Linked DNA regions of Homo sapiens: region 2 is linked to region 1. Evidence: fine-mapped expression QTL. A gene starts in region 1. The other region holds a variant in brackets. All regions are shown on one strand. Distances are from middle to middle.

The links. PIP is the estimated chance that this variant, and not a neighbour inherited with it, causes the effect. A credible set is the group of variants that fine-mapping cannot tell apart.
Region 2: its variant is the best candidate, but not a certain one, in a credible set for the expression of CBLN1 in skeletal muscle (GTEx, PIP 0.76).

The regions. Positions count from the first base shown.
Region 1 is chr16:49,279,848-49,284,229 of GRCh38, reverse strand. It overlaps CBLN1 (cerebellin 1 precursor), which reads left to right and starts at 2,392. Exons shown (of 3, transcript NM_004352.4): 1 at 2,392-3,028; 2 at 3,188-3,307. The coding sequence starts at 2,765. It overlaps SYNAGE (synapse stability regulating cerebellar lncRNA), which reads right to left and starts at 2,168. Exons shown (of 4, transcript XR_933530.4): 1 at 1,998-2,168. RefSeq lists silencers at 1,739-1,838, 2,209-2,318 and an enhancer at 2,671-3,288.
Region 2 is chr16:48,965,806-48,970,187 of GRCh38, reverse strand. No RefSeq gene overlaps it. Among named protein-coding and RNA genes, the nearest start is that of CBLN1, 310 kb to the left of the region's middle. The variant A/C (reference allele first, on the strand shown) is at 2,096.

The DNA of each region.
Region 1 (4,382 bases):
AAAGGAAAAGGCTGAGTTTGGAAGGCAGGGAGGGAGGAGACAATGTGAGTCAGTGAAAAAGGGCCCTTAGAATGACAAGTCTGGACCAGAGAGAGGCTAAGACTGAAAATACAAGTTGGGTAACCACTGGCATACAGATGGCAGTTCAGGCTTGGGCACTGCCCACCAGAGCCTCAGCATGAAGAGAAGAGGGGGAGGCTGGCCACCACCTCCCTCTAGGTAATCGTCATCCTGATGCTGAGCTCCTGAAAACAGGCTCTTTCACTCGCCCCATCTCTTGCTCTTGATTGCAACCCGGCATTCAGGAGGCACCCTGTAATATCTGTGGAGTGACCGACAACACAGCGCCAGGGCACTGAGAAGATCCCAGGGCGCCAGGGACTGGTTCTACAAGGGTGCCCCTCCCGGTCCCCTCCAGCGCGCCGCCAGAGCTGCCAGTCTTGGCTGCTACACGGGAGGCAGCCTCATTATGCAGCTCTCACCTCTTAAATTAGTTCATGCTCTCACATTAGGTGTAATCACAGCTTGCAACGCTTTCTGGGGATGTCTCAGAAAGATCTGAGTTGAAAAAATATTTTTGTGTCATTTTAATTTAAAGTAAAATTGCTGCTTCTTCCCCGCCCCTTTCTTTCCTCCTGGCCCACCCAGCGACCCTGGCCGGCCGTGCTCAACGGGGGCGGGGGTCGGAGGTGAGATTTCCTCCACATAATTCCTTAAACAGCTATCAACTAAGTCTCAAAGAAAAAAAAAAGAGATCTAGAAGCAGAGACGTGGCTGCTGGCGATCCCAAAGCTGGTGTTCGCTCTTGGGGGAGAGCGTACCCTGGGGGAGGCCGGGAGGCCGGGCCAGAGGCTAGCCCAGAGGCAGAGGGCAGGAGCGCTCAGCCGGCGCCCCGCGTCTCTCCAGCTCCCGACGCTGCGCTGGCTCCGCTGAGCACGCCAGGATCAAGGTCGCCTGGTGGGGACCGGAGCGCCAGGAGCCTGTGGGAAGCGTTCCAGCCGGCCTCTGACTGGGATCCGGCGCCGCGTTTCTGCTTTGGACTTGACTGACAGGTCCCCCCGCCCTCCCGCCGCCCTACTACCAGCCTGGGTTCATCCTTCAGGGCTACGTCTACCGCACCCGGGCTGGAAAGCCTGGAGCGCGCCCTTCCTCTCCTCATCTTCTCAGCTCTCCTTTCTCCCTGCCACTTGGCAAAGCTGCATTTTGACTTTCACGTTTTGGACTACGTGTGTGTAGTTCCAAGTCCATGCGTGGCACGAAAATCCACTTAGGGTAAAAATTATTCTCGAAAAATCGCCCATCTCAGGATCTGGTGTCTACACTCAAGGCTAGGAGGTGCAGGTACGGGTGCGTAAAGCATGCCGTAAGGGTGCACAGTAAATAAAAAGTACGGATGCAAAATGTAAATTTTAAGTGCAAAACAGAAAAGCAGTACTCGTTGCCGCCCCGCACGCTGGGTTTTAAGGGGCACGAAGGTGGGCCTCGGCTGCTTTTGCTCAGCCCCGCGTCCTCAGCGCCCGGCCCAGTACCCGGTACTCCGTAGGGGTTCAATGATCTCCCCTGAATAAGTGAACGAATTAACAAATGAATGAATGACCGCTCGATCCGACCTCCGCGGCCGGCAGAGCAGTCGCTGGAGAGGCGGGAGAGAGCGAGAGGCCAAGCTCCACCATCGCGGCCGCCGGCTGGGGCAGAGGGACACGGAGACACTCGGCGCCCCGGCTCCGCACCGAGTCCCCGCGGTGAGTGCCCGCCCAGCAGCTCCCGGGCACCACGTGCGCCCGCCAGAGCCGCGCAGGCCCCGCCCCGCCGCGCGCGCACGCGCCCTGCACCCCGGCCGCCGGGACCCTGAGCCAGGCTCGCCCAGCGCGCCGGCTGCCCTCGCGCCCGCGCCCGCTGGGGGGCGCTCCCCTCCCAACGGGCGCGCCCACAGGCGGGCAGGCGACTCGCAGCCTCCAGCGATTCCACTCCCGACCCCGGGGCGCGCCGCCTCCTACCTGAGGGCCGACGAGTGGGGGCGGGCAGGAGGGCCGAGGGAGGCGGAACAGGATCGAGGCGCGAGGCGGGAGTCGAGAAAGCGAGCGGCCGAGGCGACTCTCAGTGCGCGGACGCGGGCGCGCGCCCGCGCTCCCTTCGTCGACTCACGGCGAGAGCCCAACCCTGCTGCCGCGCGCCACCCGCCTCGCCGCGCCTAATAACAACGGCGCCCGGGGTCAGGTGGCCGAGCGCGGACAGCGCCGCCATTGGCTCGGTGGGGAGCGCGGCGCGTCAGGATTGGCTGGGGGGCGTGGCCTCGGCCGGGGCGGGGGCAGGGCCTCGGAGGGAGGCGGGCCGGGAGGCGGCGGGGGCGGGGCCAGGCCGAGGTCCGCGCCTTTGTGCCCGGCGCGCGCTCTCCGCCCGCTCCGGCTGCAGCGCCGGCTGCATCAATAATTCAGAGCGGCGGCGGCGGCGGCAGCGGCGGGTGCGGGCAGGAGGCGGCGGCAGCAGCGGGACCGAGCAGCAGCGGCTATGCATCCAAGTGCGGCTGGGCAGCCGCGGCACCCCTGAGGCCCGGGAGGGGCTCCGGGAACACAGCGCGGAGGGGACGCTAGTCGCGGAGGGGACGCTAGTCCCGGAGTGCGAGGAAGAGGTGTAGTGTCCAGAGCGGCGGCGGCGGAGCTGCGCACGGAGCTGAGGAGGGGGCTTCGGAGCGGGACTGGGACGGGGGGGGCGGCTGGCGCGAGCAGCCCTGGGGGTGGGGGGCGGGGTGGGCGCCGGCGGCGCGATGCTGGGCGTCCTGGAGCTGCTGCTGCTGGGGGCTGCGTGGCTGGCGGGCCCGGCCCGCGGGCAGAATGAGACGGAGCCCATCGTGCTGGAGGGCAAGTGCCTGGTGGTGTGCGACTCCAACCCCACGTCCGACCCCACGGGCACTGCCCTGGGCATCTCTGTGCGCTCTGGCAGCGCCAAGGTGGCTTTCTCTGCCATCAGGAGCACCAACCACGAGCCGTCCGAGATGAGTAATCGCACCATGATCATCTACTTCGACCAGGTGAGTGTTCCTTCCTCCCGCGGCGTGCAGATTGGGCTGGTGAAGGAGGGATGGATGGAAGACCGATGCCCGGTCCTCTCCAAGGGCTCTGCGGAGGCGCGGGGACGACAGTCCGGGACCGATTCCTGCCCACTCCCCTTCGTTCCCGTCTCGTTATAGGTACTAGTGAACATTGGGAACAACTTTGATTCAGAACGCAGCACTTTCATCGCCCCGCGCAAAGGGATCTACAGTTTTAACTTCCACGTGGTAAAAGTCTACAACAGACAAACCATACAGGTCAGCCGACGCCTCGTGCCGGGCCCTGGCCCCGTAGGGGGGTTACTGGCCTCAGGGGTGCTCGGGCTGTCCGGAGGTGGTAGGCAGAAGTGGCGGCTGCATGTACTTCGGGCTGCTTGGAGGGACAGATAGCGGGGCCTCTCAGTTCTGTGGCTTCAACTGTCCTCTGCTTTCCCTGTCTCTGGCTCTTGGGATCCAGCCCCATCCCCCGAGAGACAGAATTTTCTGCTTCTGCCTTCCGGGCCTCTCCGAAGGGTTCCCTGGATTTCAGGGACTTCCTTGTAACGGCTGTTGTTAGCGCCCCAGACAGCTGCCGCTTGGGAAGCCTTCCCGGACTCCCCAGGAAGCACCGCGACAGTACACCCTACCCCTTGCCCCGGCTCAGAAGCCTGCGATGCGGCTTGCGTGCTTGTCTTCAGCACCACGGACGGGGCCCCCGTTTTCTCCCACTTGTCCCCAATCCCCACCCCGTGCGGACTGTGGGTTTTTGAGCTAGCAGCATTTAGCCCCGGAGGGTGAGGGGTAGAGAGAGGAGGGAGGGAGGGGGCGTAGTGCTACTCTCTCCCGGCTCCAGCCGTGTCCCAGCAATCACTCGCCGGCTCTCCGGGTCCCCAAAGATGTCCAGGTTTCCCTTGGGCGCCGAGAGAGGTGGGACGCACAGCTGGGGAGAGGGCGCGAGGCCCTTGGCTGACGGTGCCACCACAGGGGCAAAACCAGGCGGTGGCGGGCGCGGCTGGATGGGGGAGGGAATTGAGCCCGTGGTTTGGGGAGGAAATACATTGTGCCGCTCGGTGCGAGACTTCTAATCACAAATCACAGTGGCTTCTCCACTGTGTCCTGGCAGCTGGGTCCAGGAGGGATCAGGGGCTTTTTGTTTGTTCGTTTTTGTTTTTCCGGTAGCGCCAGAAGGAGCCTGAGTTGCTGGGTTTTTTTTGTTTGTTGTTTGTTTTTTGAGGCTGAGGGGAAACGGGAGAGAGGTCAAAGGTCTCAGGGCGCTAGAGCCACCTCATGGGTTTATTAAATTGGATCACAGAGCACAGTCGAGATTCGCTTGGCGCGCTCATTTGAGAAACTG
Region 2 (4,382 bases), 310 kb after region 1:
TAACAGAAACCTGAAATTGGGTAATTTATAATTAACATAAATGTATTGGTTCATAATTCTGAAGGCTGGGAAGTTCAAGATCAAGGGGCTGGCAACTGGTAAGGGCCTTCTTGTTGTGTTATCCCATGGCAGAAGGGCAAAGAAAGAGCAAGAGATCAAACTTGCAGCCTCAAACCATTTTATAACCAGCATTAATCCATTCATGAGCGTGGAGCCCGCATGATCTAAACACCTCCCACTGGGCCCTGCCTCTCAACACTGTTGCTTTGGGGATTAAGTTTCCAACACATGCATTTTGGGGTGACCCAAGCCTGGCAGTGGTCCAAGCCTAGCTTCCCAGGCCAGATCATTTCTCTGTCACTTCTGCTGTAACCCTCTAAAAACAGAGAACTGGCTGTAGTCCTCCACTCACCCCCACTCTGCTATTTCTTGACTCGACTTTTGCTCATGCAGTGATTTCTTACACCACTAGACTCAGTTCAGGTGTGACCTCACCCAGAGAGCCATCTCCAAAGCAGAATCAGGTGCCTCTCTCAGGTCCTCTTGAAGCACACTCTGGCCCCTTTCGCATGGCACTTCTCACCCGTATGTTAATTATTCATATATGCATGTATCTGTTCTCCCACCAGACTGTGAGCTCCATATGGATGAGCACTTGATTTCTCCCACCACAGTGTCTGCAGAACACAGAGACAGCTCTGTCTCTCTCTTGATCCATGTGTTTTGGGAGATCTGGCCCCACTTCCTATCTCCATGAAATTTCAGTGTTACCCTGGGTTTTTTTTTGTTTTTTTTTTTGAGACAGAGTCTCTCTCTGTTGCCCAGGCTGGAGTGCAATGATGCGAGCTCAGCTCACTGCAACCTCCACCTCCTGGGTTCAAGCGATTCTCCTGCTTCAGCCTCCCCAATAGCTGGGATTACAGGTGTGTGCCACCATGCCCAGCTAATTTTTGTATTTTTAGTAGAGATGGGGTTTTACCATGTTGGCCAAGCTGGTCTTGAACTCCTGACCTCAAGTAATCCGCCTCGGCCTCCCAAAGTGCTGGGATTACAGGTGTGAGCCATTGCGCCCTGCCTCATCCTGGCTTTTAAGTCAGTCAGTAGGAATGGTCATTAGGTCTGGGACGTTTTGTTCAAACTCTTGGGAAAGAAAGGCTGTCTTCTCAGCTTGACTTGGCATTGTGAGACTATGAAGCTAACGAGACTGCTGCCACCTCACCATCTTCAGGAGTTGGCCCATGTAAGAATGGGAGCCAAGAAAAGAAAAGAATAAATACTGAGTTCTGACGACACCATCTGAGCTCCACAAAACGGGCATCTCTCCTCCATTGGACTTCCCTTTTGTGTAAGCCAATAAATTTCTTTTCATTTTAAGCTGGCTTGAACTGTGTTTTCTGTCACTTGCAGCTGAAACAGGTCAGTAGATGTGCAAAGAAAGGGCATGGATGTCTCAGGCCCCTGTGTGGTCCCCTCGTACATTGAATAGGGCTGACATGTGTGACCAATGGGATATCGCAGAAGTCACTGCATGTCACTTGCAAGACTAGGCCATAAAGAACTTTGCAGCTTCCACCTTGCTCCCTCTGGGGATGCCAGCCATCATGTCATAAACACATTCATTCAGTCCCCCTGGAGGGGCCCAGGGAAGAACTGAGATGTCCACCAAATTGCCAGCCATGTGAGACAGATGCCTTGGAAGCAGATCTCCAGCATCAATCAGGCTTTCAAAAGGCTGCAGCCTCATCAGACACCCTGAGCAAGCACCCCAAATCCCTAACACACAGAAGCTGTTAGAACAATCAATCATTATTGTGGTTTGAAGTCACTACATTTTCGGGTAATTTGTTACACAGCAATGTGTACCTCCCAAATCAGCTGCTCCAACATGGAAACCCTGACCTTCAACATTCCTCAACCTTCAGATGGCACCAAAATTGACCCAGCTTTTCAGACCAATAAAATAAAAACCTAGGCGTCATCCTTGAATTCTTCATTTTTCTTGCACTCCACAGCCAGTTCAAATATTAATCATGTTGGTTTTGCCTCCAAAATACATCCTGAATCCAACCATTTTTCTCTACCTTCACCTCTATAA[A/C]CCTAGCGCGGCGACCCTAATCTCTCTTGACTGACACAATGGTCTCTGAACTGGTCTCAGCTGTGCTCTTAAATCCATATAAAAGACTCTTCTTGCAGTGAGAATAATCTTGTGAAAATTCACCACAGATCACATCATACCCCTGTTTGAAACCCTCCAATGGCTTCTCAGCTCCATTTGAATAAAATCCCAACTCCTTACCTGGGATTAAGGCCCTGCACGCTGGCTCCAGCTCCCTTACCAAACTCATCTCTTCTTATCCTCTATTATCCTCTGTGCTGCAGCACAACTGGCCTCTGTCTGCCCTGCAAACATGCAAGGACTGCTGTGGACAGGGTCCCACCTGATCACCCCTTTGGTAGGGCTTCTCACGGCTGTCCCTCATGATCCAGGCCTCAACTCAAATGTCACCACCCCAGACCTGCTTTAGCAGCCTCAACCTCCATTCTAGCCTTGGTTTACTGTCTTCTCCAAGCCATTTATCCTTACCTGAAACAGTATTATTTTTTTCAAAGGTCTTCCCTTCCCCACCCCCTCACTAAAATATAACCTTGGTGAGGGCAGAGGCCTTGTCTTGTTATTCACTGCTATGATTGTATGGCCTAGACCAGTGTCTGCTATATAGCAGGTGTTCAATACATTTTGTTGTCTGAACAGCTGACCAGTGTTCCACAGAATAGTCTTTGGGAAATACTGAGCTAAGTCATCTCAAAGGTCAGTTGCAGCTCCTAAAATGGTGCTGTTTCTTATTCAGCCTGATTCTGCTCTTCCCTTTGCAAAAGATGCATCCAATGGAAGGGAGAAAACTCATCTTCTCTTCGCAACTGGAGTTTTCTCATCATCTAGGTAGGGTGGTTGTGGCTTAGATAAGGCTAGTGGCTTCCTGAAAGCTCCACAGCCAGCCTGTGCCAGGGCTGGGAATCGGAATTCCACTCTGCCAACCCTGAGAAGCTTTGAGGTGGAGGAGAGGAGAACCAAAAGAGTTGGCAGAGCTTGTTTGCTAATGGAAGGGAAGTCACCATGATGCTGATGAAGCCCCAGGGCCCTCACTAACACTGATCCTTTCCAGGGCCCTCACAAGCACTGACCCTTCCCAGGGCCCTCACTCGCACTGACCCTTCCCAGGGCCCTCACTCGCACTGACCCTTCCCAGGGCCCTCACTCGCACTGACCCTTCCCAGGGCCCTCACTCGCACTGACCCTTCCCAGGGCCCTCACTCGCACTGACCCTTCCCAGGGCCCTCACAAGCACTGACCCTTCCCAGGGCCCTCACTCGCACTGACCCTTCCCAGGGCCCTCACATGCACTGACCCTTTTCAGGACCCTCATTCACACTGACCCTTTCCAGGGTCCTCACATGTACTGACCCTTTTCAGGGCCCCAGGAGAGGCACTAGCAATGGGCTCACATGTTCAGATGTTTTTGTACAACCTGCAAAAGCAAGGTATTTGAACCACATCAGCTGACTCCGCTATTTCTTTCCCCGGCCATGTGCTCCTGCCAGGCGATGTTGGGAAAGTGTGGGCATTTGGGGATCTGACTGGGAAGAGGTTGTGTCAGAGTTACATCTAGCATGAACATAAGGGGATATATTTACACAGTTTTCAATTGATCTCATGGAGACTTTAGCTTTTGCCAGCTGTTCTGGTGTAGGCATGACTTCCAGGAATATCTCTACTCGCTCCCTTTGTGTCATGACATGAAGAAACAAGGCCAGAGGTCACATCATGAGATGAACAGGCCCAAATGCACTCGACCCCAGAAAAGAGTGAGAAAGTGTAGGTCCTAGAAGCTAGTCTGTGGCTTGTGCCCCTAATCCTCAGACATGTGCAATGGGAAATGAAGAAGCTGGCTTTTGCTGATGCCTCATCAAAATGGAAGTTTTTTTCTGCAAAAGGATCTTTCTAATTTCCCTATAGACACATAATCATTGTCATGGGAAGAGGCAATCAAAGAGTATAAAGCCAATACATAGAGAGAATTTGGAAAATATTTTAGAGGTGTGTCAGCAGTTAATGAATACAAACGTCATGCTATTTTTTGGATTTTCTGATGTTTGTGGTGCCCATCTGTGGTGCTGTATAGCTTTCAGGAAGCCACTAGCACTATCTAAGTCAGCTTTTAAACTGTTTTTTTCATTATTTCTTTTTTTTTTTGCTCTAAATCAATATTCACTTTCATATCTAATTTCGTGTTCTTTTTTCTTAAAGAGGATCCCACAATTGGACAAGCTTCCCCTTGGAGCCTACATCCACACCTGATTATCAGCAGGGACTCGGGCTGTGA